Regions from separate parts of the Homo sapiens genome. Here all the other regions are reported to be linked to region 1. The links are microRNA targets in miRTarBase. Many come from high-throughput screens and were not tested one by one. Region 1 holds a microRNA gene; each other region holds the end of a gene's coding sequence.

The links. Region 1 holds the annotated microRNA hsa-miR-4429 (AAAAGCUGGGCUGAGAGGCG, at 2,761-2,780, shown strand). A microRNA usually pairs through its seed, bases 2 to 8, with sites in the 3' UTR of a target mRNA and lowers its output. Matches are read on the target gene's strand: a 7mer-m8 pairs with bases 2 to 8, a 7mer-A1 pairs with bases 2 to 7 and ends in A, and an 8mer does both.
Region 2: the mRNA of ARL3 is a reported target of hsa-miR-4429. Seed matches in the 3' UTR shown: 7mer-m8 at 3,070-3,076 and 8mer at 2,454-2,461.
Region 3: miRTarBase lists CTRC as a target of hsa-miR-4429. The part of its 3' UTR that is shown has no 7-base or 8-base seed match.

The regions. Positions count from the first base shown.
Region 1 is chr2:11,539,282-11,543,431 of GRCh38, reverse strand. MIR4429 (microRNA 4429) reads left to right here and starts at 2,755; the gene lies at 2,755-2,827. All of the region lies in intron 1 of GREB1 (growth regulating estrogen receptor binding 1), which reads right to left.
Region 2 is chr10:102,673,441-102,677,440 of GRCh38, forward strand. It overlaps ARL3 (ARF like GTPase 3), which reads right to left. Exons shown (of 6, transcript NM_004311.4): 6 at 291-3,501. The coding sequence ends at 3,454. Among named protein-coding and RNA genes, the nearest start is that of TRIM8, 31 kb to the left of the region's middle. RefSeq lists an enhancer at 365-914.
Region 3 is chr1:15,446,308-15,450,307 of GRCh38, forward strand. It overlaps CTRC (chymotrypsin C), which reads left to right. Exons shown (of 8, transcript NM_007272.3): 8 at 268-2,935. The coding sequence ends at 282. Among named protein-coding and RNA genes, the nearest start is that of CELA2A, 8.4 kb to the right of the region's middle.

The DNA of each region.
Region 1 (4,150 bases):
AAATTAACATGCAGGGCAGTTGGCATAAAATAGATGTTAATAAGTTCCAGTTTCCTCTCTAAAATTGGAATTAACTGCCCATAATTCTAATTTCTAGATGTTAACTAAAGACTTAATTTTAAGTCTTAAGCTTGCCTTAATTTTATTCACTATCACAGAGTAGTTTATCCAATGGAATTAATTAAACTTCTGGCTTCCTTAGGAGTACACCTATTGAAACGTGCCTCTCTGAGCAGATAATATATCATTTAGTCTCTTATCCCCCCTTCTGCCAGCTTCCCAACTAAACTTGAAGGGCTTTGACAGCAGGGACTATTCCAGTCACCTCTTTACTTCCCATGGTGCCCGGAACACTGCAGGTCCCCAGAAAACAACCCCTAAAAAGAGACAGTAGACGAGGAAAAGGAAGACCACATGCTTAAGGTTACAGAGAGGATTGTCAAGAAATAGACTGAGGTCCTGTCTGAAAGCATTTGGATTAGCATTTAAAGCCCCAGGTGTACCAAATAAACACATCTGCGGCTTTAATTTAGGCCCCTGGGATGCCACCGCTGTTAGAATTCCAGAAAACTAATTAGCTAATTCCCACTGCCCCAGGTATTACCTGAACTCACTTTGTTGTTTTCTGCTCCAAACAAAGCCAGAGGGGCCAGAGGAGAGCCCTTCCTATGGGCATCAAAGTACAAGATGTGCGCTTTGATTCTTTCTCCATGAACACACTGCTGCTCAGCCGCCCCGTGTCTGTTCTCTCTTCAGTTTACTCTTAAGCCAAAATCAACTGCTCCCTCTTCTGCCCTCCCCCCGCCCCAGCACTTTGCTCATACTGCACCCTCACTGGGCTCTGGGTTTGTTCTCCCTGGGGCCACAGGGAGTGTGTCAGTGTCTACACCTCCCCCAGGGACTGAGTTGCTAAATGCAGCAAGGAAGCTCACCCATCTCCCCTCTTCCCCTCGTTCCTCTCAGAGCCCAGAACAGTTTCTTACGGGAGAGTGGATCTGCAAGGGAATGGCATTGACTCTGCCGATGATCCCACGCTGCAGATCCTACTCGACCACCACCCAGGCCACCCCAAGCTCCAAGAGCAGATGCAGCCGGGGGCCTTCGGGGTCTCAGGGCTCAAGTACAGATAGCCAGGTCTCTCCCAAGCCACACATGGACAGCTTCTGGCCTGTTCTATGCCTGCCCTGTGAGAAGCAAAGAACTTTCCTCTTCCAGAATCAGGATTTTGCCTTAAACAAAGGTAAATGCTTACATAATCTGAATTGGATCCTTGGCAGAAATATTTCATTACCACTTGTTGCTAAGGGTGAAACTGAACTAGACACAGTTCCTGCCCTGAAGAACCTCACCGAGACACAGGAAGTGCAGGTCAGCAGTGTAATGCAAAATAGAAGAGATGGGGGCAAGAAGGCCTGGAGGGAAACAGAGAAGGGAATGGAAAATTCTATCAGGTCAGTCTTGGCGGGCCTCATGGAAGGCTCAGTCATCAAAGTTGAGTACAGGTTTGCTGTCTGAAAAGAAGGGGCTTTCCAGGCAGAACGTATACAAGGCATCGGCTTGACCCAAGGGCGAGACACCTATTGTGTGCCTGGGCAACACAGGTCCTTCCAGCATGAGGTGTATGCAGGGACAGGGGGTAGGAGGGCAACGAGGGGCCCGTTCAGCCTAAGCCCTGCTAAGGTGTTTGAAATTAACCACGTCAAGCCACCAAAGGAGTTAGGCAGGGCTGATGAGGCTGTGTTTGAGATTCCTGCGGCTTCCTAAGGAAGGCTTCTAGGAGGATACTGCAATAGACCAAGACTCAAAGAGGACTAAAGACTGCCTCTGTGCAGGGTGAGTAGCACGAGGAGCCTAGCTGACCTCGGGCTTTGGAAAGAGTCGGAGGCAGTGGTGGTCTCACTGTCATAGAGAAGAGTAGTGCATGGGGGTCTGAAGAGAGAGCTGAGAGGTCACGATGCCAAGTGTTCCGATCCCCATGGCCCCCCTCTCACTTGCCATCCACTCACTCGCGGATGCCCACAGAACCCGCCTGTGCACAGAGCCTCAAGCGGTGTGATACCCTCTCCTCCAGAAGGATCCATGGCAGAGAAGGAAGGGCCATGGTCTGGAGTCAAGTCTATAAGAGCAAAACCCCAACCCTGGCTTCCTGCCCGGCCTCCCTTTCCCTTCCCTTTCTGCCTCACTGCCTCCATTCTGAATCACATCCAAAACACACCACATACCCTCCCACCTGGGGTTCCATCTCCTTCTGGGAGATGGCCTTCTCCTAGAAGCCCTGCCAACCTGGCCCTTCAGGGCCACTACCCTGGCCAGCCACAGGGACATGACCCCACCCCAAATCTCACTAGAACACCCCAAATTCCAGACATCACTGACCCATGCTCCCTCCTCTTCTAACTTCCCTACAACTAAATTCTAACTGGAAGAATTCCCCAGCCAACACAGAAGCATGGTGACTTACTTCTGGTGAGTCCAAAGTTTGAGAAAACAAGACTTGAAAAAAGCAACACTCTCCGGACTGCGTCCTCAACCTGTCTCACTTTCAACAGCTGAGGAAGGATGGGAATGGGGTGCTCCAGTAATGTGGCAATAGTCAGCCCCCAATATATGACACGGCAATAAACGCATTGAGACTGCAGGATGGTCTCCTATAAACTCTTTGACGGTCCTCCCAGCAGGAAACAAGACATCATTCTCATGTAGATTTCTCCGATTTTCCCTAGAGGAACTCATAAACTCCACAGGTGTTACTGAAGGGAGAAAAGCTGGGCTGAGAGGCGACTGGTGTCTAATTTGTTTGTCTCTCCAACTCAGACTGCCTGGCCCACAGCCACAGCTCAGCCCCGAGCTGCTCTACATCTGTGCACAGAATGTCAGAGAGTGTTTCTTTGGAGAATATCTTTAAGTGCTCTCAAATGGAACTACAGAGCCATCAGCTATGTCCCCTCCGATTGCAGTAAGAACTGAATGGAAGAGAAGGACCTTCAGAATAAAGCCAGGGAAGCAGAAACCACTGAAAACCTTCTCTCTGGAACCAACCAGGCAGGGCCCAAGCAGTGTTTTGAATCTCCTTAGCCTATCATTCATAAGAACACAAACTAATTATCTGCAATCCCTTTGGATATCATTTCAAACAATAAAAATAAGGACACCCGTTCATTAAGTGGACTTGTCTCGGTTTACTGCTCCCCTGCACCTTATTAGAAGGGCCAATGCTTTGCCATTATTCTGCTGAACACAGGCCACAGCTGTCTTCGTAAGTCAACACAAACCTCTCCAACCCCCAAAGCAGGTGCTCGCTTGCAAAGTCAAATAAACCGTACCTTACAAAAAGCTGGTCACTTCAGGCACTCCACAGACCAACCAGCCAAGAGGCTAAGCCCAGCAGAGGTGGAAAGTGTGCAGGGGCTCCCGCCTCCTGGGCTGCGCCTTTGATCTGTGCCTGGGGATGGAAGAGGATGCGTGGGGCGCGTAATGCCCTGCTGTGCAGAGCCTGGCTCGGGTCTGCCTGACACCCAGGCTTCCTGGCCCCTGCCCGGCAGGGAGAGGCAGCCAAGCCAGCCAGGGGAAAAGTTTCAGAGCTAGTATCTGCTCCCAGAGCTACAACAACAACCAAAAAAAAAAAAAAAAAAAAAATTCAGCAGTAGCCCTTCCAACTGGAGCTTCATCTGCCCCAGCGCCTGCCGGGTCAGATGGCAAATGCCACCGTTTCGTGTCTTCTTAGCCCTGAAGTGTTTTGCTGGGTCACAGTGCTCTCCACACAGGTACATACCAATCTGTCTAACCACCAACAGTTAAACTGATTCTTTTTAAACTACATGGAAGTTTGTGTACTTGGACTGGAGCCACAGTACGCTGTGCAAAGAACAAAGGGTCAGGAGAAGAACACAGGCTTTGTGGTGGAAGACAGTCAGCTGGCAGCCTGGCTTGCCTCCGAAGGACTACAGGTAGCGTGGACCTAAGCCACATAAGCGAGCACGTGCCCCTTCAAACAACTCTGCTGTGAATACCATGGAACATGCCCCAACAACAAAAACCCCCTGGAGAGGCCCAGGAAATCTTCAAGAAAACACCAGCTATTGGCTGGGCACAATGGTTCACACCTGTAATCCCAGCACTGTGGGAGGCCGAGATGGGAGGATTGCTTGAG
Region 2 (4,000 bases), not on the chromosome of region 1:
GCCCCACCTGCACTTAAAGGCTCTGTGATTTCAGGCAAATTCCTTAACTGGGGCAAATGTCTCAATGTCCTCTGCTGCAAAGGGGGACTAATGCTCACCACGATGTATCTGAAGTGCCCGGCACGTAGGAGGGGCTTAATGAAGGGCTATTATTGCTATTGTTGGTATCCTATTTTATATATATATCCTTCTGGAAAAAACCTCTTGAAGAAAGCTAACCCCTGAAAGGACAAACACATTTCAGGCCCTCTCTGAGCTTCAGCAAAGAACACAACACATTCCAGGCTGCCTTCGTTCCAGCTAAATTTTATTTGTCGGATTTTTGACAGACGTCTAAATTATACATTGAGTTTTCCACATGACCAAACACCACATCTCTTCCTTTGATTATCATTTTCAAAAGGGATTATAAAAAAAGAACCTTTTGATGGATCAGACTGAACCCTGAAACCACATGGAGTGCAGAGCTAAAAATAAAAGGAAGTAAGAACTGGTCCCCGAGAAGGAAAGGAAAGGGAAATCAAAGCAAACTCTGACGGGAATGGAGAGACGAGTCCTGGTGAGGGTGACATGGTGTCACCCTCCAGGCCAGGCCGGATAAGGAGCGGCCAACAGTGAGGGTGGGGCGCAGAGTGGCACAAAAATAGCCACTACTTTAGTCCAGAGGGGAATAAAGAAATTTGTCAAAAGCAAGGAGAGAGAAGTGGAGACGGAGGGAGGGAGGAAGGAAGGGGGCAGGACCATGTCCTCCCAGCAGCCGTGGGAGCTGCGGACTCCTTTAACCCTGGCACATTTCTAACCGCCGGCATAATCGCTGACTTTCAGCTGTGCACCGACATGTTCCCCAGCTCAGCCCACATCAATGACACCCTTGTTTCCATAGTAACCAAGGGAGAGTGAAGGGGAAAGGGTGTGTTGCACTGGGTGCAGGGAATCCAGCCAAAAGCAGCCACACGGGGTAGGTCGGGAGGAGGGGAGGACTCGAGTTTTTCCCACAACTGGCTTGAGCACATATCACGAGCACCCCCCAGGCCTTGCCTGCCCTCCGGCCCCCAGCCCTCTCCCCCGCACATTCAGATGCAATTGTGCGCAGGGCAAAAGTCTCGCTAAGACTCACTGGGGACAGGAGGAGGGGAAAAGGGGTCTTCCCTTTCCAGCTTCAAATTCTGTCTTCTGGTCAGGGGGCAGGAGTGGGCAGGGAAGAGGCAAGAGGGCTTTAAAAAGTATTTTGTTTTTAAATGGGAGCTTTCAAACTCTGCCTTTTTCAGGCTTCTCTCATCTACCCCAGAGCCCCAGGAGGGTTCAAAAGGGCTCAAAGGGAAGATGAAAGCGTGTGACATCTGCAGTGTCTCTGTGTCTCTGCAGCTGAGAGCAAATCAGAACATTTACAGAGGCCGTTATCAGAGGAGTGGCTTCTGCCTGCTAGGAGAGGCCTTGGGATGGCTCTTTAAAACAGTCCCCTAAGTTGGTGGTAAAAGAACAAAAATATTTTACAGACCCTCCAATGCCAAAGTTCCATACTGCAGTGTTCCAAAATTGCAGACCTCCAAGCAGGCATTTTGCCCCTCAGATAACTTGTCCCTGCTGAACTATTCGGAAGAAAAAACAATTTGCAAGTGCTAGAGCCACATTTGCAGCCTGGTAGAAGGGGGATTTCTGATTCCTTATAATTCTGTGTTGCCTCTGTAAGGGAGAGCTTGGGTGAGCCAGAGAAGCCAGTGGAGGAGGCTGCAGAGAGCAGCTAGCTCTGAGGTTAAAAAAACCCCTCACTTTCTTTTGTTTTGCAAGTCCTTACAGGTCTGTCCACAGCAACTCTGGGGCACCTTTTCACGGCTGGCTTTGTTAATGACTTTCATGTCAGATCGCTTTTGAAGCTGGCTATGCCTCAGTCTCTGCTGCACTCTTAGCCAGAAGCAGCTGGGTATTGAGGGCCAGGGGCTGCAGCGGCCCCTTCAGTCTGCTCACACGCCCTGATGGGCTTGGGAAGGGCCACCTCCCAGGATGAGAAGGCAGCTGGCCCCCAGGGACCCACCAGTCACTGGACAGTCTCTTATTCATTCTCTGAAAACCCCTGAGCTCAGGCACCAGAACAGAGTTTAATTCAGGAGCCGGGCAATGCTCTGGCCTGTTTCCCCATGTTTGAAGCTGAGGATTTCTGAGGTTCAGGGAAACAAGCTCGTTTTGCAACGAGGGGCAGGAGAAATGTTCTGCTATTCCTCTCCAATCAATCAACAGAGGACGGACATTCTGCTGCAGAGAGGCAGAGGAGCCCAGCAGCTGGGGTGACTCTTGATTCCTTGGACACGACCCCTGCAGTCACACACACACCCATGTCCTCCCCAGCAGCAAACCCTCTCCATCCAGGAGCATCCCACACCACCAAGTTGCCAGCACTGTAAAAATTGATCTAAAAATCGATCTGCCTGGCTTTTCTCAGTGGAGCAGGTTCATGGTAAAGCTGCATTTATTTCTAAAATCTGATAGCAGCGGCCTATTGTGATCGTTTAAACACAGAATTCTTTGAGCTTTAGAAATCCTGTCTATAGGACGGCCGTGGAGAAGCCAGCTAATCTCAGAGTCGGCTGCTCACTGCTCCACTGAGCTGGAGAAAGCCTGTTTACGCTAGCCTGAGCCCTCGATGTGAGAGCTTTTTAAGGACCTTGTAATTTTTCTGGAATTAAACCTCCCACCTCTCCTTACATTCCAGATGTCATTACAGTCAAAAGTCATAAGAATTTGCTTCTCTGTGTGGCTGGCTGGGGCAGAGGCAGGGGTGGGTGGGATGGGGTATGTTTCTGTAGTGACTTGTCTGCAAGAAAGACTTTTTTTTTTTTTTCTGTCCAAAGAGTGAGGATTACATACGTAGTCTCCGACCTGCAAGACGATGAGATGGTTTAATTATCTGCCTTTTCTCCCCCCACCCCCACCCAGCAGCTTCCTGTCGGACAGACTGAAGCCTGGCTGGGCTAGTGACGGTAAAAATCACTGACAGCACCAGCAAACACTGTCTGTGGTTTCAAAACCATGGAGGGAATGCAAGGGACGGGTCAGTAAATAAATGAACTCAGCAAAGCTGCTTCTTCCTCTTTTTCTTTTTCTTTTTTTTTTTTTGAGAGGAAAAAAAAGCCCACTGGAATTGTCTAAACTGCAATGCAATCTCTTGCTCATTTAAAAGATCTCATTTTCTAATCATGTGCTTTGAGACATTTAATACTATTTCAATTATGCAGAGGAAATAATATAATTCCTTTATTTGAAAAATGATACTGAACCTCAGAGATCAGTTAAATCTACTGCTGGAATGGGGATTCTTTCTAAACCGTGTTGTTCCCTCTCTTCAAACAGCTGGAGCTGTACACAGATGGAAAAACATTTGGTCAGAAAGCAGCAAATTAGTGTTTTTCAGGACCGAATTCGGCTCCCGCAGCTCCTGCATCTCCATTCGTCTAGATTTTATTTCTTCTTTGCATTGACATTTTTGCAGACCCAGTTCATGCCATCCTTTGAGGGAAATGGGCAGAGAAAGGCAGTGTTAGTTATAAGAAAAGCACCACACACTCTAGCCTGGAGGGGCGGGCAGTGGGGGTCCCAGGCCCTCCCTCCCAGACCGCCAGCTTTAGGGAGTTTGCTTGGCTCAGGGGCCCACCTGGGTGACCAGGGACAGTGACCTCCCAGGAGGAGGAGGAGGGAGGTCTCTGAGAGCACAAGAGGGCGATGGGAGGGGGATGCCCAGCGCCTGAACTTGAGATGGGTCCTCAGGAACTCCCTCTGAAAAAATAAACACATCTGCCTGCATCCAAAGCCTGACTGAAGAGCTATCAGGAAAGATTCCAGCCATTTTTGGCTTTTTCTAAAAGGTGACCTTTGCCAGGGCATTAAATTCAATAAGCCACCCTTTTGGTGCCCCATGTGTTTACAGTGTGACAGTGTACACTTGGGTTAAATTAAATTTCTTTTTGGAAAAACAAACCTACTGCAGTGAGTGTTGCGAGGCACACAC
Region 3 (4,000 bases), not on the chromosome of region 1:
GCCATTTCTCATCTTGAGAGTAGGGGAACAGAGGGTCACCCTGGGCTGGGGGCTTCCCCATTGGGGACAGAGTGTGTTCCAAGACCCATTTGCACAGTGGCCTGAAATGCTGAGGGCCTCAGACCCCTTGAACAGGGACAAGGCTGGCATGTGAAGGCCGGGGGCTGCTGGCCATGCCCCCATGGACCCACCCTCCGGGCAGAGCCCTGTGCCACCCTAGAAGGTGGCACAGCCCTGAGTCTCTCACACTGTTCTCTGCTCCTCCAGAAAATGCAGCTGTGATTTGTTGCTGGGAGCGGCGGCAGCGAGTCCCTGCAACAGCAATAAACTTCCTTCTCCTCGGGCCACCTGGATCCTTGATTTGTGCAGCTTCTGTTGCTTCCCTCCTCTCTGGTGCTGCCCCTTTCCACACTATGGAGCCAAAGAGAGACCCCACTCAGCCAGTTTCCCCCACCCTGCATTAGACAGGTGGGGAAACAGAGGCCGGGAGAGAGGGCCAAGGAAGGAGCCTCCTGGGGCATTAATGGGAGGCAGGGGGCTGGGGTGGAGAGCCCAGGGAGTCCTGCGTGAAGCCGGAGGGGATGGGAGTGAAGGACGCATCAGACACCTTCCCCGCTCCATCTCACAAGCTGCGAACAGGTGAGACCCTGATGAAATCACTCGCTTCTCCGATCCTACCTCCACCGAGGGGCCTGGCAGGTCCTCACAGCCCCCCAGCAGCAGGTGGAAGACAGGGTCTCCCCAAAAGCAGCGTCCCCCAGGCCAGAGAGACCAGGCCACAGGAGGATGGCCAAAGCTCAGGGACAACCACTCCTGGGGAAGGGGCTCCCTAGCAGGGACCCCCCACCCCCACCCCGCAGCACAGACCCCATGGCTGCTGTTGGCAGGGGCTCTCTGCTTTGAGAAGTGTTTAGTGAGCCAGCCCCTGTGTCCAGTCCTGTGCTGGGCATGATGAGGGTACAGGAAGAGGAAGAGACCCCAGCATCATCCTCAGGAGACATACGTTTGAAGAAGGCAATGGTTTCCACACAGAATCACAGTGGTCAGAGCTGGATATGCTTTCATTGCATTAGACAAGTGGGGAAACTGAGGCCCAGAGAGAGGAAGGAGTTGGGATAGCTGGCAATGCCTGATCCAGGAGAAGAGAGTTCTCCTGAGGCTGACAAGAGGCCAAGAGGAGCCAGAGATGAGATAGACCCAGTGTCCAGGGAGGGACATGCCAGTGGGATCAGACCCTGATGACAGGGGCAGCCAGAGATGAGAGAGATCCAATGTCCAGGGAGGGACATGCCAGGGGGATCAGACCCTGATGATAGGGGCCTCTGGCCTGGCCTGCTCCTGGGAATGTCCTGTTCTGTGGGGGTGCCCCCAGCCCAGCCTCTGGACCCCTCGCTGGAGAGCCCTCGGCTGCAGCTACCTCAGACTGGCCCAAGAGTTGTCCCTTTTCTCCACCAGACTTTGTCCCCTGGGAGTGGGGACCATGGTGTGACTCCCACACCCCCATGATGCCAAGGCAAGTCTCAGGAAAGACTTGACTTACTCAACAAGCAGTGGGAGCTACAGGGAGCCCAGCACCACCCAGACCCGGGAATCCAGGATGGGGGTACCCCAGCTGTGCAGGAGACAGACCAGTAAATAGATCATTAAATTCCCTGGTATACATTTGAAAACAGAAATACAGACCAGAAGCATAGAAACAGGACACCTGAAGCAGTGTCAGTTGGCGGGAGGAATCCAGGATGGCTTCCTGGAGGTGATGATGCCCAAGCTTGGTCTTAAAATTTGACTAGAAGGTACCCAAGTACAGAACGTAGTCCTTCTTAAGTTTGCTTAATCTAAACTTCATTCCCACCTATCCTCTTCTTTTTTTTTTTTTTTTTTTTGAGACGGAGTCTTGCTCTGATGCCCAGGCTGGAGTGCAGTGGCACAATCTCAGCTCACTGCAACCTCCACCTCCCAGGTTCAAGTGATTCTTCTGCCTCAGCCTCCCAAGTAGCTGGGATTACAGGCACGCACCACCATGCACAGCTAATTTTTTTTTTTTTTTTTTAGACAGAGTCTCGCTCTCTCACCTGGGCTGTAGTGCAGTGGTGCCATCTCGGCTCACTGCAAGCTCCGCCTCCCAGGTTCACGCCATTCTCCTGCCTCAGCCTCCTGAGTAGCTGGGACTACAGGCGCCAGCCACCATGCCTGGCTAATTTTTTTTTTTTTTGTATTTTTAGCAGAGACGGGGTTTCACCGTGTTAGCCAGGATGGTCTCGATCTCCTGATCTCGTGATCCACCTGCCTCGGCCTCCCAAAGTGCTGGCATTACAGGCGTGAGCCACCGTGCCCGGCCCCAGCTAATTTTTTTGTATTTTTTTAGTAGAGATGGGGTTTCACCATGTCGTCCAGGCTGGTCTCAAACTCCTGACCTCAGGTGATCTGCCCGCCTTGGCCTCCCAAAGTACTGGGATCACAGGTGTGAGCCACCACACCCGGTCTCATTCCCAGCTATCTTCTTTTGTGTATGTCTTTATATTGGGGGTTATAAATGCTAAATGCTTGCTGTCCTCAGATCCCTTGTAGTTAGGGAGCTAATTAAAATGTTAATTAATATTACAATGTTATTTAAGCAATGTTAAATAATATCTAACATTTATTGGGCACTTAGTATGTGCCAAGCACTATCCTATAGGTTTTACATTATCTCAATCCCCAGAAACAATCCCATGAGGTAGGTTACTATTAACATCATGCCCATTTTACAGATGAGAAAACTGAGGCCAGACAGGGTTAGTGACTTCCCAATGTGTGAACTAGAAGGTAGTGGAGCCGGAATCCAGACTTTAGTGATCTGACTCCAGGGCCTGTGCTCTTGTCCACCATGCTCTGCTGCCCTGCAATGTAAAACATCCTCCAGAAAAAAAATAAATAAATAAAAACTTCCCTGATGAGAAAGATCTGACATAGCTGGTGCTGCCCCTTCCCCTTCTTCCTGCCTTGAATATGGATGTGATGCCTGGAGCTGAGGCAGCCATCTTGTGGCCAAGATAATTACAGAGATGTCAGCTTAGACCTCATCAAGCTGTAGATCCCATGCCAGCCACCATTTTCCTCTGAATGTCTGGCTACGTGAAAAAAAATACATCTGCATTTGTTTTAGCCACCGAAGTAGATTTTCAGTTACTTGCTAATCAATTCACTAGGGAACAGAAGGGGTCACTTTCCAGCCAAGGGAACAGCATGAGCAAAGCTATAGCGACTGCTTGGAAGAAACTCCGGTGTTGCCAGAGCATAAAGTCAGGGGCAAGGGCAGAGTGACCAATTGTCCTGGTTTGCCTGGGCTGAGTTTTCCCAGACATGGGAGTTTCAATGCTAAAACTGGAAGAGTCCCAGGCAAACCAAGATGGTTGTTGCTTGGAGGGGCAAGTGACAAGGCTGGAGAGGAAGCAAACGCCCTTAGGGAAGGCCTTGTGCAGTGGTAGGGGCTGCTGGGACTTCCTGCTGAGGGCAGTGGGGGCTGTAGAGGGCTTTTAGATAGAGAAGTGGCCACTGTGGTCCGATGTGTACACTACAGTGTCCATCAGACAGCTGTGGGGAGGGTGATTTGGAGCAGGCAAGAGTGGAGGCAGACAGGCCAGTAAGGAGGCTGCTGCAGCAGTCTAGGCCAGAAATAATGCAGCCCGGATGGAGGCGGTAATGAAAAGGAGAAAAGGGAGGTTTCAGTAATTATTTAAGGGGTACAGTTGTAGCGTTGAGCAGCAAGCCTCCAGCCCCACATCTACACAAACTTCCAGGAATCTGATTAATTATCAAAACGATTGTTTGTCAGGAGCCAGGCATGGTAGCACACACCTGTAGTCCCAGCTACTTGGAAGGCTGAGGCAGAAGGATGCTTGAGCCCAGGAGTTCGAGACCAGCCTGGGCAACATAGCAAGACCCTGTCTCTACAAAGAATACAAAAATTAGCCAGGCGTGGTGGCATGTACCTGTCGTGGCAGCTACTTGGGAGGCTGAG